Homo sapiens: one gene and its partners. The protein of the gene in region 2 purifies or fractionates together with the protein of the main gene of each other region. This does not show direct contact. Each region holds a gene or a part of one and is shown on either strand. Other genes may lie near its edges.

Region 1 (6,566 bases), about 120 Mb from region 2:
CATTAGATGTGCATATCCAACAGCATATCTGACATGCCTATTGAATGTCTCTTATTAAACTAAATGTCCATAACAGAACTCAATTTCTCTCAAACCTGTTCCTAACCCTCAATTTTCTATCTCAGTAACTAGCACCACCATTTACACAGTTGTTCAAACAAAAAACTTCAGAATCATCTTTGATTTGTTCCTTTCTCTCACTGCTTCTCCTCTGGAATCCAATCTTCCTGCTACGTCTTGTTTGCTCACTTCTAAGGATACTTACAATTCAGTTTTCCATTTCCACTCCTGCTATCCTTACCGGGGCCATAAACCATCATAGCCCAGGCACCCAACACCTCTCACTACCATAAAGAGCTTTCTAACTTCCCTTCACTTCTGCTTTATTTTCCATAGCTGGTAGAGTGGTCTTTTGAAGTTATGCAATTAGACTGCCCTGCATGGTAACTTCTCAGATCTTTTCTGGTTTCCTCCACAGCATTTTATACAATTTTATTGATTTGTTTTTGTTGGTCCCTTTTGTCTCCACCAAGTTCTATGGAGGTAATGTTCTCTCATATAGTATACAAAGCCTGATTCATCACTGGGACTCAGTCATTTGGGCAGAAAGAGGGGGAAAGAAAACAAAGTAAAATATGTATCGTGGTAGATGGTGGTAAGTCCTATGGAAAAAGTAAAGCAGAGAAAGGAATATGAAGAGTTGGGGTGGGGGGAAGTTGACAATGTTAAATAGAGTAGTCAGGTGACATTTGAGTAAAGACCTGAAGAACATAAAGGAATGAGAATAATATCTACGGAAAGGAAATTCTGTGAAGGGGAAACATCGTGCAAAGTTTCAAGGAGGGAGCATGCCTGGGATTTTTGAGCAAAGCCGTGCAGTGGAAGCCTAGGACTTGAGGAGAAAAAGTCAGAGGGGGATCAGGTGGGAGTGGTGTCAGATCATGTTGGACCTTGATGGCCACAGTGAGGAATACTGGCCTTTACTCTAGGACTAGAAGTGATTTAAGATGACACACATAATGTGCCAAGTTTTAACTGGTTACTCTGGCTGGTGTGTTGAGAAGAGTCCAAGCAAGACATGTTGGGAACTTGGCTAGGACAAGTACAGACTACAGATTCCAATTTTTCTTAAAAGCTAGTGGTACCTAAAAACTACATTTGAAACTAACAACTAAGAGAAGTCTTAAACTGGACTGATATTATGCATATTATTAACCTTTAAAGTGGTTCCTATACTATACTCCACGGAAATATTTCAAAGTAAGAAAATCCCATTTGTATTAAGATGCTTATACCTAAGTTTTTGTAGACAAATTGTGGAAAGAACCTAAATATCTAACAAATGGGAAATATTGAATGTAGCAGAATATTACATGGCCATTAAAAATAACTATATGGGCCGGGTGCGGTGGCTCATGCTTGTAATCCCAGCACTTTGGGAAGCCGAGGTGGGTGGATCACAAGGTCAGGAGTTGAGACCAGCCTGGCCAACACCGTGAAACCCCGTCTGTACTAAAAATACAAAAATTAGTTGGGTGTGGTGGTGGGCACCTGTAATCCCAGCTACTTGGGAGGCTGAGGCAGGAGAATCGCTTGAACCTGGGAGGCAGAGGTTGCAGTGAGCCAAGATCGCGCCACTGCACTCCAGCCAGGGCGACAGAGCTAGACTCTTTCTCAAAAATAAATAAATAAAAATAAACAACAACAACAACAAGTAAGTATATGGGGCTGGGTGCGGTGGCTCACACCTGTAATCCCAGCACTCTGGGAGGCCGAGGACAGATCACCTGAGGTCAGGAGTTTGAGACCAGCCCGACCAACATGGAGAAACCCCGTCGCTACTAAAAATACAAAATTAGCCGGGCGTGATGGCGCATGCCTGTAATCTCAGCTACTCGGGAGGCTGAGGCAGGAGAATCGCTTGAACCCAGGAGGCGGAGGTTGCGGTGAGCCGAGATCTCGCCATTGCACTCCAGCCTGGGCAACAGGAGCAAAACTCCGTCTCATAAACAAACAAACAAAAAACTATATGGACTATGCTAGTATGGGAAAGTCATCAGAAAATAATTTAGTGTAAATAGAGAACACAAATGTATATTAAATACAGTTTATGTAAAAATCATTTCCACAATAAAGAAGGGCCTAAAATAGTCATGGTCTTATTATAGTTCTTGTAATAGGTGTTCCTCTGTAAAAGTACTTGGTGGGTTTTATTAACTCCGAATTTAAAGTTCATTATATAATATTTATATCTGAGTTATTTACCTTGGGGTTTTCCAGCTTGTAGTACATTACTGATGTCACAATAAGCATATGACATCAAAAAATATATATAAGGGACTTTTTGCAAAACCTTTGTTGGGTAAGAGCTAATTTCCACAGTAAAAACAGACACCAAAGTTAAAACAACTAGAACGCTTTGATTCAAGAAGCTAGTTAAAAGCTAATAAAATTCAATACATGGTTTTCAAGGTAGTTTATTTGACCTAGTTTCGTCCAATGTCTGAACAGATCAGATTTCAGCAATAAAATTACCTTACTTTCAGGGAACTGATGAATACTTGCAAAACAGTGCCCTTCTAAGCAGCTATATTAATATATTCTATTTTCTCGACCCGGTCCCACCTCCACCTGTAGCATGACTTGAAGAACCGTGAACAAGAAATTAGACAGGTTTATATCCTAAGAGTAGGCTCGTTTACATTAGATGGTTTTCAGGACTGTCAGGGCAGAAATGGGGTAAGGGTGTCTCTTTCCCAACCATAGATGGGTAGAAGAAAGTGTACAGGCTGATGGTGCAGAACCCTCTTACCTCCAGTTTCTGTAATTCCCACACGCATAGGGGAACCGCAACCACTATTGACACCAGGTAGATGACCGCTACTAAAGGTCGAATCCACTGTCTCCAGTTCCTCCAGGTACAAGTGCAAGGCATGTTTTCGCACAAATCAGATCCGGTTAGCAAGGGAAAAGATCTCGAAAAGATTGTAATGGGGAGCCCTGTTCTCTGGCTGTTTTGTCAACTCGCATACTACGGAGAAAAAGCTGTCGGGCGACTTTACGAACAGCTCGAGCCGCCTCCTGGACCGGCGCTGTGTCTTCTGCTGCTGCTGCTTCTGCAAATGTAGCCTCTCAGGGTGCTATTGGCGAGCAGTGCAGGCAACATCCTTTCTTCTCCACCCCGCATCTACCCGGTTGTACTGCGGTGGAATCCCAGGCAGAGCCGCTGCCCTCACCTGGGGATCGCCCTGAGCTCTGCCTGTACCATGGCTTCCAGGAGAGCAGCACAGACCAGGAACCGGCCTCTAGGGACCCTGCACACTCCGGTTCTGTCTCGCAGCTGCCTGCCCACTCGCTCTTTTCTTTGGGGATCGAGCTTCCTACCTCCCGCACTGGCAGGCGTCTCTTCAGTCGATTCCGCTAGTAGGTAAGGCCCCAGGATCTCCTCATTCTTTCGCACGGGACCTCCCCTACAGCGGAACCCAAGGCCAAACCAAGACTTTCAGCTCTTTTCCGCTTCCGCCCCTGCTGTCTGAGGCAGGTGATTCGTCGTCAGCGCCAAACTGGGCCCGCCCCATCCGACTCACTTTGCGCCCTCTGATTGGTCAGCTGTGGGGGCGGGGCTGCAGGATTGCGTACTGGGGTTAGAAAGAAGAGCAGGTGCGTGGAAGTGGGTGGAATTGCCGCAGATGGTCCAGCGGGCTATTGCAAGGATTCTGGAAGCTGCGGGAATTATTTGAGGACACTTGAAGCACACCTACTACATTCTTCTGCTGGCGTTATTCCAGTTTAAAGAAAGCTTGGGTAAGGGGCGGTTACTTCAGAGTTGGACTGGAAGAGAGAAGGCCCATCTCTACACAAAACATCCCCTATTCAATCTAGAGTGGATACAGAAGCCCGCTGGAGTAAGAAGACAAGGAAGAATGGGAAACCTCCACCTAGTTTTCTGTCAGTTGCTAGAATCTAGGGGCTAGGCCGCTTGGTTATTTCTGGATCCTACAGAAGGATCATTCTAAAGGTAGCTTCATTTTAGAATTAACCGCAAATAGGGAATGTCCCTTCTACATTTGGAACTTGTGTTAAAAATTTGCACTCATTTAAGTTTTAAAAAGTTGACATTCCATCTGACAAAGGAGTTTCATATGCTTAAAGCCTTTAGCTAAACCAATAGAGTAAACAAATATCTACTACTCAATTACATATACAAATGCGTTTTATATTGTAATTGTAATTTTCAGGGGGACAGGCACTGTACTAAGTTCATTACCTACATTATGTAAGTTGTTCTGCACAAAAATTTTGAGAGGTAGGCATTTTTCCACTTTACAGATAAAAAAGTCAAGTGGCTGATAAATTTGCCCAGGCTCACTGAGCTAGTTAAGTGGTAGTGTGGAGATAGCAACCTTGGTCTTTGTGACTCCAAAGGGCATTATATTTAAGCATTTGACCTGCTAGTACCTGCCACCTGGGGAATTTCCGCCTAATGACCATACGGATAAGGAGGCTTGTAACATTGAGTACACCTAGCCCAGGAGTCTCACAGAGACACCTAAGGAATATTATGAGCCCCTTTTTTGGTATCGTCTGTTTGGACTTGACTTCACTGCCTACTTCTCAGTTGTTAACATTTGTATTTTACAACCTGACCCAAACTACTTTCTACCGGAAAAATAGGCCTTATGTTTGTTCTTCCTAAGCTTACTTTAAAAATGGAAATTAAGGCTGGGTGCAGGGGCTCATGCCTGTAATCCCAGCAGTTTGGGAGGCGGAGGTGGGCGGATCATGAGGTCAGGAAATCGAGACTATCCTGGCTAACACAGTGAAACTCCGTCTCTACCAAAAATACAAAAAATTAGCCAGTTGTGGTGGCGGGAGCCTGTAGTCCCAGGTACTCAGGAGGCTGAGGCAGGAGAATGGCGTGAACCCGGGAGGCGGAGCTTGCAGTGAGCCGAGATCAAGCCACTGCACTCCAGCCTGGGCGACAGAGCGAGACTCTGTCTCAAAAAATAAATAAATAAATAAATAAATAAAATTAATTAAAAAAAATTCCTGATCATTAAATTAATGCTTGCTCTGTTGTTAAAGTTCATAAAAAAGAAGAATAATGAAGAGAAAGTTAATTTTACTCTACGGCCAAGTATAACTACTCTTTACTTGTTTGGTACACAGTAGAGGCTATCTTGGATATGCCGTATGCGTAGATTGTCTCTGTGCTTTCAGCTACAGCGTTTTTGCTGCCTATAATCTTTCCCATTCTTTCTCATGGGCAAACTTTTTTTGCCTAATTTGTGAGACCTTCCTTTATTTTTGTTTCCCCATGTATTCTTACAGCATTTATATGGTATTATACTCATTTACTTATTTGTCTTGTTTAGATTTTGAATTCCTAAAGCAAAAATCTAAATCCATTAGAAAAAAGCAAAAGAGAGAAGAGATGAGACAGATGCACAAATGATTTCACATACCAGTTTGCGAACTGGAATTCTTCTATGGTGAAATTTCTTCAGCTCAGCAGAGAAATTAAAAACAAAATTACAGATTGAGTATGCCAAATCTGAAAATCTGAAATTCAGAATGCTCCCAAATCCAAAACTTTTTGAGTACTTATATGATGCTCAAAGGAAATGCTCCTTGAAACACTTCAGATTTTGGATTTTCAGATTTGAGATGCTCAACTGGTATGTATAATGCAAATGTTCCCCAATCTGAAAAAATCTGAAATCCAGAACACTTCTGGTCCAAAGCATTTCAGATGAGATATATGAATTTTTCATTTAGTTAAATTTCTTCACTCTTAAGGACCATGTTTTATTTTGAAATTGTCTATCCTATTTTTTAATATGATAATAGATAGTAGTTGTTCTTCAGATATTTTTACTTTGGAGAATAAAAAGTTGATAGCTTTATTTGCCTACCATTTGTTTCATTTTTTTCTCTTGACCTGTAAGATCCTAAAGTCTAGTAAGGATAGGGAATAGGCCATAATGCTGATGTGATCCTAATCTACTTGCTTTGCTTGCTATAGGCATTCTCTGCATTCTTTCTGGATATGAGAGCCTAAGCCTGAAGGTGGATCTGAGCTTGATGGTGTTTGAAAAATAAGAAATGGTTAAAATTGGCAGATGGTGCTAGGGTCAAAAACAAGCTATTAGTCAATTTTGATGCAAGTTATAGAGGTTAATTGAAGTTTGTTACTGCTGCATCACATGCAAATAGGTGGAATTTGCTATTATTGAAGGATAAGTTTGGATTAATCTGAATTAAGATAATAGATTAAATGCACTTTGAGGGATCCTGGGGGATGGACACTGTTAACCCTTTGCCATGTATCTCCATTTCTCTATAAATATGTCCATGGTAGTTTTAAAACCTGGCTGCAACTTCTTTGATACTCATCTGATAACAAAATAGAGTCTGTGTTCCCTCTCTTTACATGTATGTGGGCTTGTGATTGATTTTAACCAATAGAAGTTGGTGAAAATGGTCACAGTCACCATATGTGACTTCTGAGGCTAGGTCATAAAAGACCATGCAGTACCACCTTGTCTGCTGGAACATTTACCTTT
Region 2 (5,830 bases):
TCTCTGCCTTCAATAGGATCTCTGGATCCCCTGATATTTTCCTGCCTTCTGAATGCTAGTTCTTTATCCTCTTTTTGTTAGCATCGTCAGATCTCACAGAGACAAGACACATTCCTTTAAGTACTTTGTGGATCTACACTACAATCAATTTACTAGTTACCAGTCACTCATGACTCTTGGACTACTACCAAAAAAGGGGCTCCACTTTAGGTTCTATCATTAGGAATAATTACTGAAATATTCAGATATAAGCAGGTTGTAAATTAAAAGTCCATGGTTAAAAATAAAGTCTGGCTTACCTTTGTTTTAGGTACAATGCTCAGATGAAGCTTGTTGTCCACAAGATAGGCACCCGCTTCGGAAAGGTACCCCTGATTAGGAATCAGGCAGCCTCGGCCAAAGCAGCAAGGGCAGCAGACCTTATGGACATATTTGGTCCATTTTGGATTGAGTTGACCATAAGGCTCTTCTGATTTGGGTTTAAACACACCAATAATTTTCTAGAGCAAAAAAGTAAAAATCTTATTAGACTTTTTACATATATAGATAATCATCCATAAAATGCATTCTAATAAATTGTTCTCTACTGCTTCCTACCACAGATGTAGGCATAAATCCCCAAACTATTAAGAGGATTTATAAACCTCAACTATTAAGAGATTTAGTTCCAATCACATTTTCATATTCATTCTTATTCAACAATCTAAAATCAAGACCAGTTTTCAAACTGTGCTCTGACAAACCCTGGGAAGGTGGGGGCAAGGCTCCAAGACCCCATGCCACTTAACCAGATTAACTCTAATTTCACCTGTTTTATATTGCTGGACTTCCAAGTTAAGAAACAGTTTCACTGGGCCGGGCACGGTGGCTCACACCTGTAATCCAGCACTTTGGGAGGCCGAGGCGGGCGGATCATGAGGTCAGGAGATCGAGACCATCCTGGCTAACATGGTGAAACCCCATCTCTACTAAAAATACAAAAAATTAGCCGGGCGTGGTGGAGGGCACCTGTAGTCTCAGCTACTCAGGAGGCTGAGGCTGGAGAATGGCATGAACCCAGGAGGCAGAGCTTGCAGTGAGCGGAGATCGCACCACTGCACTCCAGCCTGGGTGACAGAGCGAGACTCTGTCTCAAAAAAAAAAAAAAGGAAAGACTTTCACTGATTTTTAAATGTTTCAAAACCACCATTCTAGGTCAAACAGTGTTATTATTCACTATCTATTAAATATCCACATTACATGTTTGCTGTTTACTTTCCCCACATTAATGTACATTCTAATAAGGCAAGGACTTGGTTTGTTAGGGCTGCATTTCCAGTAGTCAGAACAGTATCTGATGAACAGTGGACATCCAAGTATTTGTTAAATTAACTAATCCAATGACAAAAACTACCTCTAAAATACAAATATAATGATAAGATACAGTGTACATCCATGCTGTCAGATTCTCGTACCCTAATTCTTTTCCAGCTATTTTTTCAGGAACCAATTTAAAGTAAACTCTTGGCCAGGCGCTGTGGCTCACACCTGTAATCCCAGCACTTTGGGAGGTGAGCAGATCACTTGAGGTCAGGAGACCAGCCTGGTCAACATGGGGAAATCCCGTCTCTACTCAAAATACAACAATTAGCTCGGCGTGGTGGCGAGCGCCTGTAATCCCGGCTACTCAGGAGGCTGTGGCAGGATAATCGCTTGAACCCGGGAGGTGGAGGTTGCAGTGAGCCGAGACTGTGCTACTGCACTCCAGCCTGGGCGACAGAGTGAGAATCCATCTTAACAAATAAATTGATTAAATTCTCTCGTATTAAAAAATCTTTTTTTGCTCATGAATGTCTAAAAGTCTCTGTACTCTTATTGTTTGATACAATATACTCATATTCAATTTAGAAGCTGAATTATCCTTAGACAAGAACAAATCTTATTATAATTTTAAGTATATAATTGCTTTATAACACAATAAATATAATGCAATAAGGTCTGAGTCACTAGTAAAAAAGTCAACAAGATCAAATTAAGAAATCAAGCTTAGAATAAAGATTGAGAGATTGACAGTACCTTCAAATACATTTTAATCTTAAAAAAGGGACTATGCTTTAAAATCATTTTAAAAATAGAACTTCTATCTTTGCCAAAAAAATTGGGTGAAATTATAAACGTTATTCCCCTGGAGAAAAGAACTGCTCATTATGCATCATTCAGAAAGCTTTTAGAAAAAATAACATATTTTTGAAAAATTCTAGACTAAGTGGAGCAAAGTGCCACATCAACTTCTCTTTTCCACTTTAGAATCATCCTGTGGTTCATTTCACTTTCACATTCCAATACTTTCAAGCTTCAGATTGCTAAGCCTCCTTCCCCTGGTAAAATGCCAGAAAAGGTATTCACATACCTTTGAAAAAAAATCAAGTACTTTGGAAATGACATTAAACAACTTTTGAAGGTTTAACCTTCCACCGTGTTTGGCTATTAAGGTTATAGACTTCCATAAGATAAGGACTTGTGAATATATATACTCAAAAAGGCTACAGCTGAATGTGGGTATTCAATAAATGCTTGAAACCAAGTATAAAATAACAAAATAGCAAACTGTGACTTGAACTGATTAGCTCTGTTTCTAAGCACTAGAGTGCTTTAGTAAAAGCAAAACATTGAGGCTGGGCACAGTGGCTCACACCTGTAATCTCAACACTTTGGGAGCCAAAGCCGAGGTTTGCTTGAGCCCAGGAGTTCAAGACCAGCCAGGGCAATATAGGGAGACCACCGTCTCTACAAATAATTACAAAAATTAGCCCAGTGTGGTGGCACGCAACTATGGTCCCACCTACTTGGGAGGCTGAGATGGGAGGATTGCCTGAGCCCAGGTGGTCAAGGTTACAGTGAGCTATGATTGCACCACTGCACTCCAGCCTGGGTAAGAGAGGGCGACCCCGGGCGTCTCAAAAAACAAACAAAAACTGACCTTTGTTTTGGAAAAGAGGTTACAATCAGACTTAATAGGAAAATATCTTTAGAAACTCACAATGATTTCATATTTAAATTAGTATTTACCAAAGTTTCCATTACATATAATAGGTCTGTGAAATTCTCACCCTCTTAGGATCCTTCACAAAGTAACTTCCACTTGAACCTTGAGAGATTCTTTCTGGAAAAATTCCAACTTCTATTGCTTGCTCTGCTCTCAGCATAATATCGGCAAATTCTGGGTCATCCAAGAATGCATTCATCTCTGAAGTACCAATAGTTACTGCATTAAGAAGAAATACCAGCTATGAGAATGCTCATGATATGGACCTGTAATATCGATTAGCTTGCCGGTATCAGGATATAAGGTACAGAAAAATGTAATCAAGATTTGTATAGACTGCTCTAATCCTCCTTCCCCCCACTGCCTAACAACCCCCACTTCTCTTAAATTTCCAAATAATAACATGGGGGCGGGGGCGGGCACAGTGGCTCACGCCTGTAATCCCAGCACTTTAGGAGGCTGAGGCGAGTGGATCACCTGAGGTCAGGAGAGTTCAAGACCAGCCTGGCCAACATGGCAAAACCCCGTGTCTACTAAAAATACAAAAAATTAGCCAGATGTGGTGGTGGGCACCTGTAATTCCAGCTACTCGGAAGGCTGAGGCAGGAGAATCACTTGAATCTGGGAGGTGGAGGTTGCAGTGAGCAGAGATTGCGCCACTGCACTCCAGCCTGGGCAATAAGAGCGAGACACCGTCCAAATAATAATAATAACAACAACAACAACAACAACATGGGAGGAAGTTAACTGTTCATTAAAAATAATACTAATACCTCTCATTTCTTTGAACTTCGGTCCTGCAATGATTCTATCATCCATCCTACTTCATCCTCTAGTTCCCCAATCATATCTCGGATTTTGTCAATACCAGTAACTGCAACCTCACCACACTTTCAATTTCAAGCACCTCCTGTCTTCCCAGTTCAGTCCCTCTGGCACTCCGAGTCCAAATATTCTTCTGCCCTACTAGAACCTACAAAGGACTGCTCCCCCACGTCACTGGAATTCTCTCCCTTCATGTCCTTGCTTCCCTCCTCCTTGGCCAGCTTAAATTATGCTGGGTCTTCACAAAATCAACTCTTTCTTTCTCCCTTCATCATGGTCACCTGCAAAACTCCCAGTCCTGGTTAAACCCAACTGTCTACCAACTCCATGCCTGCACCAGGGCAGCGGAATTAAAGAAATGCACATGAGCCAATTTCTCTCCTCAAATTCCCAACACCTCCTCTTCCATCCTCTCTCTCAGGAGAGGATCTAGCTTCCTATTTCATTAAGAAATAAGCAGCAATCACAAAATACTACGACCAGCCCCCAGCACTGCATTTATTACCAACTACTTAACTTTGGAATGGCCCAGGTTCCATTCACAGTCCTCTTCTCTCCGTTACCAACACTGGTGACTCCCAAATTTCTAATTCAAGCCTGGACTTCTGCCCTAAACTCGACAACTGTATTCAACATCTCCACTTGGATGCGTAATAGACATCTCAAACTTCACTACCCAAAACTTCATTCTTCACCTTTACGCCTCCCAAAGGCTTCATCCCTACGTTTCCCATATTGCAGTTGCTGGCACCTCCAAATCTTCCAGTTGCTTAGGCCAAAAACCTTATAATCATCCATGATCTCACACGCTTACCCTCTACATCCAATCAGCAGGTTGTATTGGCTCTACCTTAAATAAATACCCAGAATCCAACCACCTCTTGCCATCTCCATTCCTTCCACATGATTCAGGTTACCATCGGCTCTCACCTCGATTATTCTAAGAGCCTCCTAACTGGTCTCCCTCTCTCACCCAGTCCCTCTCTATACCTAACAGAGAAGCTAGTAATACTTTTTCTTTGTAACTTTTAAGTTCAAGGGTACAAGTGCAGGTTACATAGGTAAACTTCTATCTTGGGGGTTTGTTGTACAGATTATTTCATCACCTAGGTATTAAACTGGTAAGAACAGATACTACACTTGATCTTAGCCAAAAGACAGAGAAGCAATCACTCAGGTATTAAGCAATCACCCAGGTAATCACTAGGTATTAAACCTAGTACCCATTAGTTACTGTTCCTGACTCTCCCTCCTCCTACCCTCCACCTTCTGAAAGGCCCTGGTATATGTTGTTCCCCTCTATGTGTCTGTGTGTTCTCATCATTTAGCTCCCACTTATTAGTGAGAACACGTGGTTGTTTGGTTTTCTGTTCCTGTGTTAGTTCACTGAGGCTAATGGCCTCCTGCTCCATTCATGTCCTTGCAAAGGACATGATCTCGTTCTTTTTTATGGCTCTTAAAACATTCTCCCTCTCCCTCTCCCCTCTCCCCTCTCCCTCTTCTTTGCACGGTCTCCCTCTGATGCGGAGCCGAGGTTGGACTGTACTGCCGCCATCTCGGCTCACTGCAACCTCCCTGCCTGATTCTCCCGCCTCAGCCTGCCAAGTGCCTGGGATTGCAGGCGCGCGCTGCCACGCCTGACTGGTTTTCGTATTTTTTGGTGGAGACGGGGTTTCGCCGTGTTGGCCGGGCTGGTCTCCAGTTCCTGACCGTGAGTGATCTGCCAGCCTCGGCCTCCCGAGGTGCCGGGATTGCAAACGGAGTCTCGCTCACTCAGTGCTCAGTGTTGCCCAGGCTGGAGTGCAGTGGCGTGATCTCGGCTCACTACAACCTCCACCTCCCAGCCACTTGCCTTGGCCTCCCAAAGTGCCGAGATTGCAGTCTCTGCCCGACCGCCACCCCGTCTAGGAAGTGAGGAGCGTCTCTGCCTGGCCGCCCATCGTCTGGGATGTGGGGAGGGCCTCTGCCCCGCCGCCCCGT
Region 3 (5,830 bases), on a different chromosome or scaffold from region 2:
CCTCATTGTTACATTACTCAGCAATCCTCACCTATTTTGTTATTCTGGGTCCTGTTTCCTTAAGGCTCAGCTCTCAGCTAGCTGGTACAGTGAAAAGCCAACTGAGTTGGGAACCTACAGATTAGTTCCAGCCTCAGCTGGACCACATACTAGTTGTGTGCGTGGCACATACGTGCTTATTAGAAGTGAGTTGCTCTTTCCCTCAAAATCACTCAACGTAAACAGCTCTATATTCTGTGTATGTCTGGTACCAGCCTTGGAGTGATTTTTTTTCTGTGGTGTAATACCTCGTACTCGAGCCACTGTTTGAAGTCTGTGTAGGTCTCGTCTCTAGGGGAGGTGGCCGGCTGGATTCTAGGGCACTGTGGCGTGTCTCCTGGGTGTGCTGAGAATGCTCTACACTCTAGGGATGGGAGCATTGCTAATTGTTTTGGGATTACTGTGAGGAGGCCTTTGAGAGCCAAGAGGTGTGTGTGTGGACTGTAAGCCACACCTGAGGTGAGCGTGCTATGGTGTATGTACATGGGTGACCTGGAAATGGAGGGCTTATGCTGGGGTGTGTCCATGGGAGGTAGGAGGGGGCACCTTGGCCAGCCTAGTGGGGAAGTAAAATGAGCTCTGGTCCCTTGGGGCTCATTTTTGTCCTTCTGTGAGGGCTTCAGGCTTTCCCAGTGCACCCAGAGTGATTTTTGGGCTGCTTTGCCAGACTTTTGGGTGGTTGCAGCTGGCTTGAGTAACAGCAGGGGGAGGGAGATCCAGTTTATAACGGGGCTGGGAAAGTAAGGTCAGAGGAACTCTTTGTTAAAGGTCCTTTTGCTGCTGCCGCCGCTACTGCTGACTTTGTGAAGTGTTTAGTGAAGTCAGGCAGGTTGCTGAAGGCTTCTTATTTGCTTTCCAGTTTGAGTTTCCTGAATGAGTGTGTGTGTGTGCATATGTGCACGCACGTGCTTGTGTGTGGTACCAGTGAGCATGTGTAGTCAGGCAGGCATAAGCCCCTAGCATTAAAAATTGTTTTTCCTTCTCCTCACCCTTCTCTCCAAGTATTCCTTGCCTCATTCCTGTCCTGCTTCTTCTTGGAAGTGCAAAGCTGACATCTGTTCTTTATCATTCTTCCTCTCTTTTTCTCTTTTTGTCCCCACCCCCACCTCCAGGTTAAATTTTTATTACAACTATTCCAAACAGAGATGAGCCTTGTTCCCAGGCTTTGAGTTAGTTGGTAGTTCTGGGCCCAGGAAACCTCTGGTTTGACTGGCCAGGGGTACTTGAAATTTGGAGGTATTGCCATTTGTCCCCTTTTGTATCTGGGAGCCAGCAGAAGAATCTGACTGGAATCTGTTCCACTGAGGCCCCTGCAGGCCTCTGAAGAAAACCGCTGGTGGGATGAAGCTTCTAATTAGCCAAGTTACCATTTGACAGAGGCAGGTTGAGTTTTCTACCATGATGACTTCCCCCCGCCCCAGGTTATTTCTTGCATTTTGAAGGGTGAGGTTATTTGTAAAACTTACTTGAGTACCAGCTGTCTGTGTGAAAGACTAAATATTTTTGAAGATAGGGCTGGAGGAGGGAGTAGTGGGAAGAAGAGGGGAGAAGGAAGTAAATGTGTTAGCAGAGGAGTGGAGGGGGGAGGTGGAAATGTGACCACAGAGGAGAGGACCCTGGTGATGAATACTTTGTACATGTGTGGATGTGCGTGCTTGTGTATGTGTGTGTGTGTCTGTCATATACAGACACATAGACACTTTAGGTGGTGGCTGCCTTGTGCCTAGCCAGTGACAGGTTGTACAAGGTACACCAGCATGCCTCTGAGGAATGAAATCTCCTTCTGGTCGGCCTTTTTCTTTGGCATCTATAATTTCCTGTCCACCACATAGTGGGGGCAGGGTTTGGGGAGCAGAATGTGGGCTGCTTTGTTAGTATTAGGACTTAGCGCAGTGGCTCATGCCTGTAATCCCAGCACTTGGGGAGGCCGAGGCAGGCAGATCACTTGAGGTCAGGAGTTCGAGACCAGCCTGGCCAACATGGTAAAACCCCCGTCTCTACTAAAAATACAAAAATTAGCCCCGTGTGGCTGTTGTGCGCCTGTAGTCCCAGCTACTCGGAAGGCTGAGGCAGGAGAATCCCTTGCACCTGGGAGGCGGAGGTTGCAGTGAGCTGAGATCTTAGCCTGGATGACAGAGTGAGACTCTGTCTTAAAAAAAAAAAAAAAAAAGAACTTAGTGAGGCCTCAGGAAATCAGTTGATCTAGCCCCCTGCCTTCAGGCAGGTGAGGGTGTCTGAATAGACAAATGGTGATCTATTTTCATTCTTACATTGTCTAGGAGTAGAGACTCCACATCCTCTGGCTGCTGTATTTTTACCTTGTGGGAAGATAGTCCAAATCTTGAGGCACATCTGGAGCTGCATTTTAGTAGCAGGGTCCTGCTTGCAGCAGGTGCTTAGGAACAAGTGTGAGTTGATTTATAGCTGCCTGCAGCACAGCTCTGGGCCAGCCAGATGGCTTGAGAAGTCTGGTCAGGCATGTGGGTGCCCCTTAATGAAAAACGCATAATGTTAGCAGTGCTGGCAGATGTCCTTTTATTTTTGGATTATGCCTTTACATATCTTCTAGAAGACTTTTCAAATGAGTGACCTGTAATTTTCAGTGGACACATAGTAGATTGAATACATAAAACAAAAAAAGTTGTCCATCCTGGGGCCAGTTAGCTCTGTATTGTTAGAGTGTTTCTTTTTTTTTTTAATTATTTTTTATTTTTTATTTATTTTTTGAGACAGGGCCTTGCCCCATCACCCAGGCTGGAGTGCAGTGGCATGATCTCTGCTTTTGCAACCTCTGCCTCCCGGGTTCAAGCACTTCTCCTGCCTCAGCCTCCCGAGTAGCTGGGATTACAGACACCTGCCAAATACAAATAATTTTTGTATTTTCAGTAGAGACAGGGTTTCACCATGTTGGCCAGGCTTGTCTCGAACTCCTGACCTCAAGTTATCCACCTGCCTCAGCCTCCCCAAGTGCTGGGATTACAGGCATGAGCCACTGCGCCCGGCCTGTTAGAGGTGTTTCTGAAGAAGCCGGGGGGTCTCTCTCGGGCCGCTGTCACCGAGTAGAAATTTGGCCAAATATTCACTAAGCCTCTTGCAACTCCAAGAACCTGAAATTCTGTATAACTCTGTGTCTGTCTGGAAGACTCAAATACACACAAAAGGAGATTATAGATTACCAGTAGGTTGCTATATTTAAATATAATTGTATTCATGGTAAACGTATTTAAGTTTAAAAGCAGAGTGAAAAATGGTATAATGCTTAAAGAAAAAGGATTTTCTAATTAATTCTTAGGGTGAGGTATTTAAGAAATGTGAGTGTGTATTGCTAGTTTCAGCTTTGAGCACATGAACAATTTTCAGTTCTTTCTGCTTAAGCTCTATCCAGCTTGTGCGATGAACACATAGCTACCAGCTTGGCCTGAAGTGTTAGGACACTGTAGCAGAATGCCACTGACAACCTAGGAGACATCCAGCTACTGAAAGGCTATCGTGGTATTCAGTCAAATTCAACTTCCTGATAAAGTGTGATCCTGGAGAAAGGAACAAGTGCACTGTCTCCTGGAATTGGCTTCCAGCTTTCTCTTTTAGCTTTCTGACCTGGCCACTAGTGGGATCAAGGTCCTCAGACTTCTCTTGTGGCAAGAATGACTATGAGACTCTTGACCCCTGAAGCAGAAGCAGTTTGCTGCTATAATCAGTGCTTATGGTCTCACTGTGTCCTCTGTATATGAAGGAAATCTTATCAAGGCACTGTCAGACCAGGTTCTGTCAGGTTGGTCCCCATTAGAGCTTTTGATGTATATATTGGCAGAAGAGTCATTGAATTGGATGAACTGAAAACAGCTTTGTAACACTGCTTAGTAATCAATAGTAATCAATACAAACAATACTTTTCTAGCCTATCCAAATTCTACCCCTCTTTCAAATTCTTTCTTGAGTCTTTCTTCATGAAAACTTTCCAGTAATTTCTGCATTCATTGGGCTAATTGTACACACCGCTCATTCAACAGATAATCACATGACATTTCTTATAGTTTGGAGCTATATGGTGATTACACTTCTCACTGTTGTTGTCCCCCGCAGCTAGTCTCTTTCAAGGTCAGAGACTATGTTCAATGGCTGTGTAGCCCCCACAGTGCTCTCTACCATGCCTTACATAGAGTAGATGGCCAATAAGTGTTGCTGAATTAAAACATTCTAGATGTACTTAAAATTTAACAATCTTGACCCACAGAATCATAGGATGGTAGATCTGGAAAGGGCTTTGGAGACTATCTCCCTCCTTGTGTGGGGTGAGGAAACCAGGCCCACAGAAGTGAGTTTCCTTTATCAAGATGAGTTGACCAGCCAACGTCTCTATACTGACTCAGGGCTTTTTCTTCTAATTTCGACATTTTATCTCATTGTTCATTGTTACCCTTTGGCTATGGAATCCTGAAGATATTCAAACACACATGCTTTAGTAAAGTGTACATAGTACCAAATACTAGGCCAGCATATTCCAGATTCTTGCGAGCTAGTGTGTGTGTTACCCAGTGGCATCTAGGCTCTTTGGGTCTCCCAAGCTTATGCTCCTAGAAAATGAAGGCATCTTTGCAGAGAACTGATGGTATTGCAGCATGGCATTTCTGGTAGCCTTGCAGGAACAGGGAAGCCTATCAGGAGCTTTGTGAGTTAACAAGGGATCATCACTGCTGTGGCCACTCCTGGTCCCTGCTGCCAAGATGAGGATGGCTTGGAGAAAAATCAAGCAATGTGTGCTCTGTACATTGTTACTTAGTGACTTATCCTGATGAAAGGGGCAGTGTGGGCTGGGCGCAGTGGCTCATGCCTGTAATCCCAGCACTTTGGGATGCTGAGGCAGGTGGATCACTTGAGGTCAGGAGTTCGAGACCAGCCGGGCCAACATGGTGAAACCCTGTCTCTACTAAAAGTACAAAAAGTCAGCTGGGCTTGGTGGTGCACACCTGTATTCCCAGCTACTTGGGAGGCTGAGGCAGGAGAATCACTTGAACTTGGGAGGCGGAGGTTGCAGTGAGCCGAGATTGTGCCATTGCACTCCAGCCTGGGCAACAAAACAAGAACAAAACTCCATCTAAATAAATAAATAAATAAATAAAATAGAAAAAAGAAAGAGGAGGTGTGTCTGGCAGACAGGTGAAATAGAAAAAGCAGACCTGATAATATGAACTTACTAGGTTTGAGGAGACACAAGACTATGTAGACCAAAGCCAAACTTTGACATACCAGAATGTTAGTGCCCACAGTGACAAGGTCCAGGTTCCTGAAGAGCATCCTTATGTGAGATTGGGAAGAGGAAAAAGTGACTATATTGTGCTCTGTAACCAAGAGTGCATTCTCTGGGGAATGACTCTATGGAGGTCAGTCTTGGCTTTATCTAGCTTCGGATTCTGTCTGTGACTTGACTAACCAAATGAGTTTTAGAAAGGCATAGTTGCCTCTTTGGTATCAATCTGTTACAGTACTTAGCTAAACTTAACTTCCTGATGAAGTATGTTCCTTGAGAGAGAGTTCTTCCCAAGAGTTCCTTGGGTTGTATCTCCTGAACAGTTTGCTTTCTTTTTCTTTTCTTTTTCTTTTTTTTTCTTTGAGACGGAGTTTCATTCTTGTTGCCCAGGCTGGAGTGCAATGGCACAATCTCGGCTCACTGCAACCTCCGCCTCCCGGGTTCAAGCGATTCTCCTGCCTCAGCCTCCTGAGTAGCTGGGATTACAGGCATGCGCCACCACGCCTTGCTAATTTTGTATTTTTTAGTAGAGACAGAGTTTCT
Region 4 (5,830 bases), on a different chromosome or scaffold from region 2:
TAAGACTCCATCTCAAAAAAAAAAAAAAAAGTTCTCAGGGAAAACTGTGCTCTGCACAATCCTCCATCTGGCGAGGTGAGAACAGGGATGGAGAAACTGAGGCAACAGGTAACCAACAGAAGGCGCTTTACGTAAGCAAAAGGCAATATCCAGGTTACCCTGATAATATTTCAAGCAACCCACAGGTTGCAAGAACACAAGTTCCTTAAGGGTGGCCAGGAAAAGACTGTGTTATAAACTTTCAAAACACTACTAGTTCAGGTGAAAGGGAGAGGTGTGGGAGGAGATGCTTACTTTTTATTACATGAGTTAACAAAAACACAGTTAATTGTGTTGGTGCAAAAGGAATCGCGGTTTTCACCAATACATAATGGCAAAAACCACGATTACTTTTGTACCAACCTAATATAAGGGGAGGAAAGCAGCTAGTAAAGGAGGAAGGCCGGATGGGTGCAGTGGCTCACGCCTGTAATCCCAGCACTTTGGGAGGCCAAGGTGGGTGGATCATGAGGTCAGGAGATCGAGACTATCCTGACTAACATGGTGAAACCCCGTCTCTACTAAAAGTACAAAAAATTAGCCAGGTGTGGTGGCGGGCGCCTGTAGTCCCAGCTACTTGAGAGGCTGAGGCAGGAGAATGGCATGAATCCAGGAGACGGAGCTTGCAGTGAGCCGAGATAGCACCACTGCACTCCAGCCTGGGTGACAGAGCGAGACTCTGCCTCAAAAAAAAAAAAAAAAAAAAAAAAAAAAAAGGAGGAAGGCCTCCTGGTTGGGCACAATAACTCACACCTGTAATCCCAGCACTTTGGGAGGCTGAGATGGAAGGATTGCTTGAGGCCAGGAGTTAGAAACCAGCCTGGCCAACACAACAAGACCCCGTCTCTACAAAAAACAATTTTTTAATAAATTAGCTAAGCATGGTGGTGTACACCAATGGCCCAGCTACTTGGGAGTCTGAGGTGGGAGGACTGGCTCAGCCCAGGAGGTCAAAGCTATAGTGAGCTATGATCATGCCACTGCACTCCAGCCTGGCCAACATGGTGGAAAAAAAAAATGTAATTTTGCAACTTAATAACATTTTATCAGAAAAAAAGTAAGTTAACATTCATTATGCCACAGACACAGGAAGCCTTTCAGTTTCTCCCTCTCTCCAAAGCCCGCATATGTACACATGGCTACTTGTCCAAGTTTTAAACTAACTTTATTGTAGTTTTAAACTGTTCTTTTTTTTTTTTTTTTTTTTTTTTGAGATATTGTCTCGCACTGTCACCCAGGCTGGCATGCAGCAGTGTGATCTCTGCTCAACCTCTGCCTCCCAGGTTCAAGCGATTCTCCTACCTCAGCCTCCCAAATAGCTGAGACTACAGGTGCACATCACCACGTCCGGCTAATTTTGATATTTTTAGTAGAGATGGGGTTTCACCATGTTGGCCAGGCTGGTCTCAAACTCCTGACTTCAAGTGATCCACCTGCCTCAGCCTCCCAAAGTGCTGGGATTCCAGGCACAAACCACCACACCAGGCCCACCATTCATCTTAAATGAGATTTTCTACCTTAGGTTAAATGGGAAGTTTCTGAAAGTTGAGGAAGAGAGGATGGGAGAAGCAAGCCTGCTCTCTACGCCAACCAAAGGAAATACATCGGACTTGTGCTAAGACAGAATGACAGAAACTCACCTTCATGTAGCAGAAAGTAGCATTTCTCAAATATCCTGTGATGTCTGAGACCCTCAAAGAGCTTTAAGGCCGGGGTTACAAACCCTGAGCCTAGTAAACAACAGTCATCGATGCGATGCCAGATTATCCAACACTTAGAGCTGAAGACACTTACTGGTATCAAAGAAACCCTGTGCAAGCTCCAGCACCCAGCTGCCCCAAGCACTGCGCAGAAACCATCTTCCTGCCCCACCGCAAAGCAGTGCAGGCAGAATGAACCTTCAGAGAGACAAGTGAGAAGCAACGAAGACACAGGAGAACTTCAAGGTCTCCAGTAATCTCTGGGCTGCTAAGTCCAAAGCTGGAGCTCCAGTCCCTAACTCATGTTGCTGCAGCATCTGATACAGAAGTGGGGTGGATCCTCTCCCAGTTTCCACTCCGGGTTTTCTTAACATTCATCTGGCCACCCCTTCCTTCTCAGGATCCTTCAAAAGCTGGTGTTCCCAAGTTCCAGCTGGGGCCTCTGCTCAAGGGGGACACGCTCATTCATGCCTTAATCCCATTTTATGTACCTACTCACCTCCAGATCCAAACAGTCACCTACTGGAGCTATCTCCTTAGATGACCCAAAGGCCATCAAGGCCAAAACTTATCCCAAGGCACCAAACTGGCTCCTTCCCTAAGGAAAAACACCGTCATTTACCTAGTGATCCCTGCCAGTCATTCTTTTTTTTGAGACAGGGTCTGGCTCTGGTGCCCAGGCTAGAGTGCAGTGGTATGAGCATGGCAGCCGCCTTGACTTCCTGGGCGCAAGCGATCCTCCCACCTTGGCCTCCCAAGTAGCTGGGACTACAAGTGCATGCTACCACTCCTGGCTAATTTTTGTATTTTTTGTAGAGATGGGATTTTGCCATGTTGCCCAGGCTGGTCTCAAACTCCTGGGCTCAAGCGATCCTCCCGCGTCAGCCTCCCAAATGCTGGGATTACAGACGTGAGCCACTGCGCCCAGCTCCTGCCAGTCATCCTTGACACTCTGGCTCTCCTACAACCAGTTACCAAGTCCTATCGTTTCCACATTTTAAGTGTCTCTCAAGGGCAGCTCTCACTCCATCCCCACTGACACTGCCTCCCTGCACCCTCAGCCAAATTAAATTGTTGTCTGAGCCGGGTGCTCACAGATGTAATGCCAGCATTTTGGGAGGCCGAGGCAGGTGGATCACCTGAGGCCAGGAGTTTGAGAGCATCCTGGCCAACATGAAACCCCATCTCTAATAAAAATACAAAAATTAGCTGGGCATGGCGGTGCACGCCTATAATGCCAGCTACTCAGGAAGCTGAGACAGGAGAATCGCTTGAACCCGGGAGGCGGAGGTTGCAGTGAGCCAAAATCAAGCCACTGAACTCCAGCCTGGGCACGAGAGCAAGAGTCTGTATCAAAAAAAAAAAAAAAAAAAAAAAAAAAATTTGTCTCTCATTTCCATGATATTGTTTCTGCATTCCTCCTACCTTGGACAGTGCCTGACACCAGGAAGGTGCTTAACAATAATAACGTCTACCGTCATTGCCTACTTTTTGAGAGAGGCACTGCTCTAAGAGTTTTGCACCTATTGTGTATGATCCCTAAAACATCTCTATTTTACAGATACGGAAATTAAGGCATATAGAAGTCAGCTAATGTGCCCATGATCACACGGGAAGTGAACCTGGATTCAAATCCAGTTGGCCTCCAGAGCCCATGCATTAACCATTAAGTTCTACTTCGGTCCAATAAATGATATAGGTTTGCATAAAGAAGTCAATCTGGCAGGGCACAATGGCTCCTGCCCATAATTCTAGCACTCTGGGAGGCTGAGGCCAGCCGATCACTTGAGCCCAGGAATTCGAGACCAGCCTGGAAAACACAAGAAGACCCTGTGTCTACAAAGAATACAAAATTTAGCTGGGTGTGGTGGTGCACACCTGTAGTCCCAGCTACTTGGGAGGCTGAGGTGGAGGGATCACCGGAACCCAGGAGTTTGAGGCTACAGTGAGCTGTGATGGCACCACTGCACTCTAGCCTGGGAGACAGAGTTAAACCCTATCTCAAAAAATGAAAATAAAAAGGAAAAAAAAAATTTTTTTAAGAGTCAATCCCATCAAATGAGAAAAGGCAGAAAAGCATCCATATAATTTTGCAATCGAGACATCAATAGTGATGTAAGCAAAACCCCTTTCACTAGGGTGATAGAGGCAAAAACCAGGTGACAAGGACGAAGGAGTGAGAAGAGAGCATTCTTAACAGCTACCACTTAGAACATGCCATTCCCAGGCACCGTGCCAAGCGCTTAACATATTTTTTAATCCTTGCAACACTGCTAGATAGATACTACTATTCCCACTTTACAGATGAGAAAACTGAAGCAAATGAGCTTAAGTAATTTGTACTAGGTCATGCTGCAAATAAATGGCAGAAATGGATTCTGACTTAATTCATCTGACCCCAAAAGCCATGCTATCAATCACAATGCCAAGGTTGATAAGACAGTTTCAAGTCAAATGCCAAAGTGAAAAAAAAAAACAACTCACATGCCATAGATATACAAAGTGCATTTTAGTCACTGATTTTAACAAAGACACAAGTAAGAGATCAACTTTTTTGAAGTTTAAAATGTTTAACTTAGTTTCTTTTTTTTTCAAGACTGAGTTTCACTCTCATCACCCAGGCTGGAGTGCAATGGCACAATCTCAGCTCACTGCAACCTCTGCTTCCTGGGTTCGAGTGATTCTCCTGCTTCAGACTCCTGACTAAATGGGATTACAGGCGCCCACCAGCAGGCCTAGCTAATTTTTGTATTTTTAGTAGAGACAGGGTTTCACCAAGCTGGTCAGGCTGGTCTTGAATTCCTGACCTCAGGTGATCCACCTGCCTTGGCTTCCCAAAGTGCTGGGATTACAGGTGTGAGCTACCGTGCTCAGCCTATTTTCCATTTCTTTAGCAGGATTCCTCCCATCTCAGCACTCATTCATCAGTTAAGAGTATGAAGCAAAGACTGGCACAGTCTTCTGCCAATAGTGTCTTGTTTCTTAATGTGATACAATTCACAGTGTAGAACAGACTTTCACAATAACTCACGTTTAAAAGGAACCAAAGAGAGACTGGGCATGGTGTTTCATGCCTGTAATCCCAACACTTTGGGAGGCCAAGGTCAGAGGATCACTTGAGCACAGGAGTTCGAGACCAGCCTGGACAACACAGTGAGACCCCGTCCCTAAAAAAAAAAAAAAACAAAACCCAAATTAAAAAAAATTAGCTGGGCATGGTTTCACCTATAGTCCCAGCTAATTGGGAGGGCAAGGCAGGAGGATCAGTTGAGTCCAAGAGTTCAAGGCTACTGTGAGCCACGGCTATGGTCACACCACTGCACTCCAGCCTCGGTGACAGGGAGAAACCTTGTCTCAAAAAAAAAAAAAAGATCAAATAAGAAATTACAAGAGAAAGCATAGTTTTAGTTGCTAAACGTGTAGTTTAGGCAACATCAGTAGTCTCATAAAGACAAAAGGAAAGGAATGTAGGCTGACATAATTACATGTCTGGAACCAGACTTACTTCTAAAACTCAGACTTCCCGTTTATTTCTCCTCACTTACGGTTGTTAATGAATGCATCGTTCCATTTTCAAAATCATGATATAAAACCATGGTAACGTTCAACCCCCCCGCTTCTTAAAAAAATTCACTACAGTCTCAAGATGGAAAATAATTTATCTTTGTTCTTTAGTTTTTTAAATAATTGCCAACCATCTTAAACACCAAAATTAAAAGTACTCCCATATTAAAATTTAATAATCTGGGGCTTAATTTTTAAGAAAACAAGTCATGAGGGATGCCAAGATCAAACAAAAGCTAATAGTTCAGTATGAAACCTTTCTGTAACCAAACTCAGTGTGTAAGACTGGGACATGTTTGAAAAACAGCACTTGTAACCAAACAACACAAAAGTCCAAACGGCAGTGTTTCGAAGGCTGTGTCATGTACTCCCCAGGATCACACTCAGGTATGTAATCACACGCAGAAAAAACACTACAGACCTCTTGTCAAATGTATTTGATTCGTACATGAGAAAGTTAACTTAAGGATTTCCATGTTCGAAATCAATCTAAATGAAAATTCAATTTGCTAAAACCTCTATCTTTC
Region 5 (5,830 bases), about 140 Mb from region 2:
AAGTGTACTCTTGATCATTTAGAAATAAGAAAGTGTAGGGGACTTAAACAAAATCTATCATTGCTATTGAACAAAACAGTTGAATCAGCATGTTCTGCTTTCAACAGGAAAGTGGTTTATAACTACTCCAAGTGACTGTTTTAGTCAATTCAGACTGCTTCAACAGAAAACCACAGACTAGATGGCTAAACAACAAACATGTATTTCTCACAATCCTGGAGGCTGGAAAGTTCAAGATCATGGTGTAAGTAGATTCAGTTCTGTTGAGGGCTTGCTTCTTGGTCTGCAGATGGCCATCTTCCCATTGTATCATCCAGTGGTAGTGAGCAGAGATTGGAGAACAAGCTCTCTTGTCTCTCTGTTAAAGGCACTAATTACATCCAAGGAGCTCCACCCTCATGACCTATCATCTCCTAATACCATCACATTGAGGGTTAGAATTTCAATATAAAAATTTTGGAGGGGAGGGCACAAACATCCAGTCCACAGCAGTGAGTTTCTTGTAATCTCAGAAGTCTTCTTACATAACTAAATTGTTGTTCAGAATTGATTTGGGTCCTTTGTGATTTATTGATCATTAATTTAAAATTCAATTAACTTGGGGATGTATTGAAAACTTGACAATGTGAAACTAATTTTGCTATACATTAACTACTAAAAAAACCACTACCGTTCATTAAGTCACCACCCAATCCCAATCACTTTTCTTACATTATCTCATTTAATCCTCAAAACAACTAGAGGTATTCATTTTTACTCCGGTTTTGCCAAAAATGAAGTTAAAGCTCAGATATATTACATAACTTAAAGTCATTCAGTTAGAAAATAGCAGAGCTGATATCTGAGTTTAATTCTGTTTGACTCCAAGACAAACATTTTTTCCATTTCATTGTGTAAGCTTAATTATATCTCTCCTTGCAAAGGGATAAATACCACATAATCAGACTTGAAAGTTTTCCATGGTGTTATTCTAAATGATTTTGACTCATTTGAATTTGCATTTCTTGAAGTTTCTCATAAAAGGTTTGACTCAATTGTTTAAATGCCAGGACTACATTGTCACGCTTATTTTCACATAGTTCACTCAAGGAGTCACTGTATAAATGATAATAATAATAAAAAAATAATGAGCCCACATTTTTATAACAATCAATATTATTAAAAGGTTAGCAGAAGTAATTCCCCCCAAAATCTATCAGATGTAAATATGGAGAAAAAGTACGCAGAATATTAATAAAATGCACAGTTATCTTGTAAAATCTTTACAACATACATCATGTATCTTGAGAAAGATAAAGATATATACCTTCACACAGTTCTTCTTTTTTTCTTTTTTCTTTTTCTTTTTTTTTTTTTTTTTTTTTGAGACAGAGTCTCGCTCTGTTGCCCAGGTTGGAGTGCAGTGGCGTGATCTGATCTCGGCTCACTGCAACCTCTGCCTCCTGGGTTCAAGCAATTCTCTGCCTCAGCCTCCTGAGTAGCTGGGATTATAGGCACCCGGCTAATTTTTATATTTTTAGTAGCGACAGGGTTTCACCATCTTGGCCAGGCTGGTCTTGAACTCCTGACCTCGTGATCCACCCGCCTCGGCCTCTCAAAGTGCTGGGATTACAGGCGTGGGCCACCGTGTCCGGCCACAGTTCCTCTTTATATTACACCTAAACTTGCTCTGTGAGTTTGTAAGACCACAGAATTCCATATTCTTAGAACCTAGAAGTGTTATTCAACTTCTTTTCTTCTCTTTACACATCTCATGAAAGCCATATGGACTTCCTAATATAGGGACAATTATTTTTAAAAACCCACAGTCACCCAATTCAGTGGAAAAAAATTCTGTCCCTATCCATATATCTTAGGATAGAAGCTGGGGTGAATGAGAGGAGACATAGAAAAGTGAGTCCCTCAGCTACCTGACATGCTATTCGAGCATTGCAATCAATTGGGATTTGACATTTTGCCATCCTTTTCGTTTTCATGCTCCACCTTATTCACTCTAGAGCAGAGTTTCAGTTTTTTACTAGTCCTCAGTGGCTGAATATTAGGAATGATCACATCTTTATCTCTAAGTCTGAAATTCCTCCAGAGTTTCAGACATATTATTCTATTGACTGCTGAACATTTCCCCCTGGATGTCTTATAGACAACACATGTGACATTTTAAATTCCAACTCATACTTTTTTATTGTCAGTTCTGAAGTCATCATCATGTATTCCCTACTTTCATTAACACTATCATTAACCAAATTAGAAACCCAATTTGTCATAATATCTCTTTCCCCATTGCATGAATTCCTCCTCTTAAATATTTCTCCAATCCTTATCATTCATTTCTACCACCACTGCCTAATTCAAGCCTTCATTTTCTCTCACCTGGAATATGGGTATAGCCTCCAGCTTTAGCTCCCTGCTTTCAGTTTCTCTACCTCTTGAGTTAATCTATATACCCTGCCAGAATAATATCTCTAAAACATAGATCTATGTCGTACTCATCCTTAGAAACTCCCCTTTGTCTACCATTTGTCTCACCTTTGTCTACCATTTTAAATCCAAACTTCATTGCCTAACAAATAAGACCCTTCGCATATACAACCAAATTCCTTTCAAAGACTCCACACTCACTTCTCAGCATTTTCCCCAGTCCCTGTCACAACCTCCACATTCTGTACTCCACCATCATTAGCTTGGGGCCTATCCCCGAATACATCAGGACCTTTAATATTTCTGCACATTTGGATACACTATTCTCCCTGCTTAAAATCTGACTACCCTAATTATTCTACTTAATTATCCTAATTAACTAGAATTATATTAAGTATAATTAATCTACTTAATGAATTTTCACTTCTCCTTTAAGACCTGATTGGAAATTACATCTTCTATAATGCTTTTTCCGATTATAGTAGCATTAATCATAAAGTTATTTATGTTATCTTAGTATTTTGTGTATAACTCAATCATAGCACTTACCACATATGACTGTCTACAAGAAAGTTTCTCCCATGACATTGAAGTGCCTGGAAGAGTGCCTCTAACACAGTAAGACCTTGATACTTTTATAATTGATAAATGAATGAAGGAATTATTTTTCCTGTTTAAACTCTTGAGATACATTTAAAATCTCCAAAGTTTCTCAGGCTACTCAAAGAGGTTGTAGCTTTGGTAGCTATAAGCCACTTGAGGAATCCTTTATGTAGAGATACTCCAAGTGGGCAAAGGAGGGTCATCCTAAGACTTTCACTCTTTGTAGAAAGCTTCCCAAAGGGTCAGACTCGGCTCAGACCAAGGAAAACCACAAATATGTCCTCACTAACAAGGAACTCTAAATAAATATTCTCCTTCCAAAACTGAATTTACGTGAAAAACCACATACACTTGATAAAGAAGTAAGGACTAGAGGTAAGGAAAATGGAGCTAGACAAAAACTGGATGACCAATGGAGCATAGAGAAAGGAGTGCCCACATAGAGTTCATATTTGCTTGGGTCTCTGTTGAGCATTGGGCAGATGAACATAGGAAATCAATGGGAGCTGCCAGAGTCTGGGAAAGGCACTGGGTACGAGAAAGATTTAACTGCTTTGAAGTGGATATAAACCAGAGACCTACTGAAGTCATTTATCTGACTCAGTGTGACTGCTCAGCATTTGTAGAAATTGAGTATAGTGAGAATATAGCGAGGCCTGGAGATTTATGAAGTCATGAGGAAGAGCCTTCCAGGCTCTGATCCGAATGAAATTCAATTACAAATGGATTTGAGATGAATCTTAATACAAAAAAAACAGCGTGACAGTGTCCTGAGGAATGGGTCTACAGAGCCTTTGGATAGCTGAATTGTAGAGAACCTGGGAGGCTCAATAGTATCTTCAGAGTGCTCCTTCATGAGAATCACAAACTTACACAAAGGAAGAGCTATATGTTTGCTAAACTATCATTAAATAATTGAGAAAATCAAACTCAGCATGAAACATACCTGATAGCCTGAATGTTGAATGCAAAATCTTTCAAACACTTTAAAAGCTGTCCCATACGCATCCTAAAGAGAACAACATTTCTTAATTAAAAAGTATAAAAACATAAACATAAAAGAATTAACTCAAACTTTAATAGTGGTCTGTCCATGGCAGTTAATTTATCTGCCAAATGCACTCCCAGTTAAGCATTCTATTGTATTAATCATAATGAAATTGAGAGGCATAGGTAAAAACCACAAAAAAAATTATTAAAGAGATAATTTGACCATTATCAAAGGGGGAGGGTGAAATATAAAAGTAAAGCATAGAAGGGTCAATGAGGACTACAGATTAAAGTGAAAACAAAACAAGTTGATAGACTAATATTATTTCTACTTACTTCTTCTACTTTCTTAGTTCTATTTCTACTTTCTTAGTTCTTCATAACTAAGAACTAGACCTAAGAAAAACAGATGTAGCTCAAGATTTGTCAAGAATAGGAGAACATTGAACAAGATGCAAGATGCCTCTGCCACACTGTCTCTCCTACCAGAAATGACTGGGAGTCAGGGTGGCTTCTTCCTACAGGAAAATGGTATGCAAAAGACTTCCAGCGGTTTCCACAGCCATCACAGATGCCAGCAGTTCTTGCTACAAGAGAGTCTCCCAGTCCTCACAGGCCCAGAATCTATTTTGGAGAGTTGCCAGAAGTTTAAGTAGTTTCGTTGCCCCAGAGTAAGAGCCCACATTGTGTATCTCCTCCTTCATGACCTAAGCAGCTATGGCATGATGACATTTTGAAGGCCAGTAGCCAATCTCTCTCTCCATCCCTGAAGCCCCACTATCATTTCACATCCAAAGCTATGTGGCAGCCCACCACCCACTGGGGAAAAGGCAGACATGCACAGCAAGAAAACCACTGAACAGGTGGCCAGGCCACTGCACCAGTGCATACTCGTGCTGCGCAGCCAGAAAAACCACCATGCCTGCACCAACCCATGCCAAGCCTGGCAGCCAGGGCAGAGGTGGCCCCACCTCCTGAAAAGACTGCGGCATGCCAGTCAGCCCAGCATGCATTTGCATGTGCCTGGCCTGACAGCCAGTTCAGCAGAGGCCTCACCTTCCCAGGGACACTGCCACACAGCCAGCAGTCCCACTACACATGCACTTGGCCCAATATCCAGTTCAACAGCAGCCCGACCTCCCCATAGACACTGCCACACAGCTGGCCAGCCCACATATGCCTGCACTCAAACCAACAGCAGTCCAACAGTGGTCTTACCTCCTCCAGAGACACTACTGCACAGCTGGCTGGCTCACTGCACCCACAGATACCCAGCTCAAGAGCCAGCCTGGTGATAGCCTCACTTCTCTGGAGAGTCCACCATACAGCCTGCTGGCACACTGAACCAAAATATTCCTGCCCCAAATAACCAGCTCAGTGCCCCTGCCCCCACCAAAACCATACCACCAACATCTGTAGCCTATCCTCCTGTAGATATCATACAAAAGAACCAAAAAAATCGTGGAGCTAAAGAATTCAATGCATTAAGTTTTAAAAGAATGAGAGCTTTAGCAACAGACTAGATCAAGCTAAAGAAATAATTTCTGAATTTGAAGACTGGTCTTTTGAAATAACCAGTCAAAGAGGGAAAAAGAATAAAAAGGAATTAAGAAACCATATAGGACTTATGGGACACCATTAAATGAACAAATATTCACCTTATAGGGGCACCAGAGGGAGAAGTAGAGAGATATTTTGTTATTATTATTAACAAAATAATAGCTGAAAACTTCCCATGTCTTGGGAGATATATGCATCTAAGAAGCTCAAAAGTCCCCAATTAGTTTCAACCCACAAAGATACTCTCTGAGGCACATTA

What was found.
Region 1: the proteins of PI4K2B (region 2) and TMEM184C fractionate together in Homo sapiens (co-fractionation; one large-scale study listed by BioGRID). This does not show direct contact.
Region 3: the proteins of PI4K2B (region 2) and ZDHHC9 fractionate together in Homo sapiens (co-fractionation; one large-scale study listed by BioGRID). This does not show direct contact.
Region 4: the proteins of PI4K2B (region 2) and TMEM248 fractionate together in Homo sapiens (co-fractionation; one large-scale study listed by BioGRID). This does not show direct contact.
Region 5: the proteins of PI4K2B (region 2) and DDX60L purify together in Homo sapiens (affinity purification with mass spectrometry, with the first as the bait; one large-scale study listed by BioGRID). This does not show direct contact.

Annotation. Positions count from the first base shown.
Region 1 is NC_000004.12:147,614,326-147,620,891, reverse strand, and holds the start of TMEM184C (transmembrane protein 184C), read right to left. Parts: upstream 3,496-6,566; 5' UTR 2,936-3,495; coding exon 2,813-2,935; intron 1-2,812. UniProt on the Homo sapiens protein: Possible tumor suppressor which may play a role in cell growth.
Region 2 is NC_000004.12:25,249,735-25,255,564, reverse strand, and holds part of PI4K2B (phosphatidylinositol 4-kinase type 2-beta), read right to left. Parts: intron 5,021-5,830; exon of another isoform or gene 4,926-5,020; intron 3,245-4,925; coding exon 3,090-3,244; intron 501-3,089; coding exon 300-500; intron 1-299. UniProt on the Homo sapiens protein: Together with PI4K2A and the type III PI4Ks (PIK4CA and PIK4CB) it contributes to the overall PI4-kinase activity of the cell. This contribution may be especially significant in plasma membrane, endosomal and Golgi compartments.
Region 3 is NC_000023.11:129,835,603-129,841,432, reverse strand, and holds part of ZDHHC9 (palmitoyltransferase ZDHHC9), read left to right. Parts: intron 1-5,830. UniProt on the Homo sapiens protein: Palmitoyltransferase that catalyzes the addition of palmitate onto various protein substrates, such as ADRB2, GSDMD, HRAS, NRAS and CGAS. The ZDHHC9-GOLGA7 complex is a palmitoyltransferase specific for HRAS and NRAS.
Region 4 is NC_000007.14:66,926,718-66,932,547, reverse strand, and holds part of TMEM248 (transmembrane protein 248), read right to left. Parts: intron 4,789-5,830; exon of another isoform or gene 4,771-4,788; intron 1,934-4,770; exon of another isoform or gene 1,686-1,933; coding exon of another isoform or gene 1,680-1,685; intron 1-1,679.
Region 5 is NC_000004.12:168,357,182-168,363,011, forward strand, and holds part of DDX60L (probable ATP-dependent RNA helicase DDX60-like), read right to left. Parts: intron 4,031-5,830; coding exon 3,968-4,030; intron 1,096-3,967; coding exon 966-1,095; 3' UTR 1-965.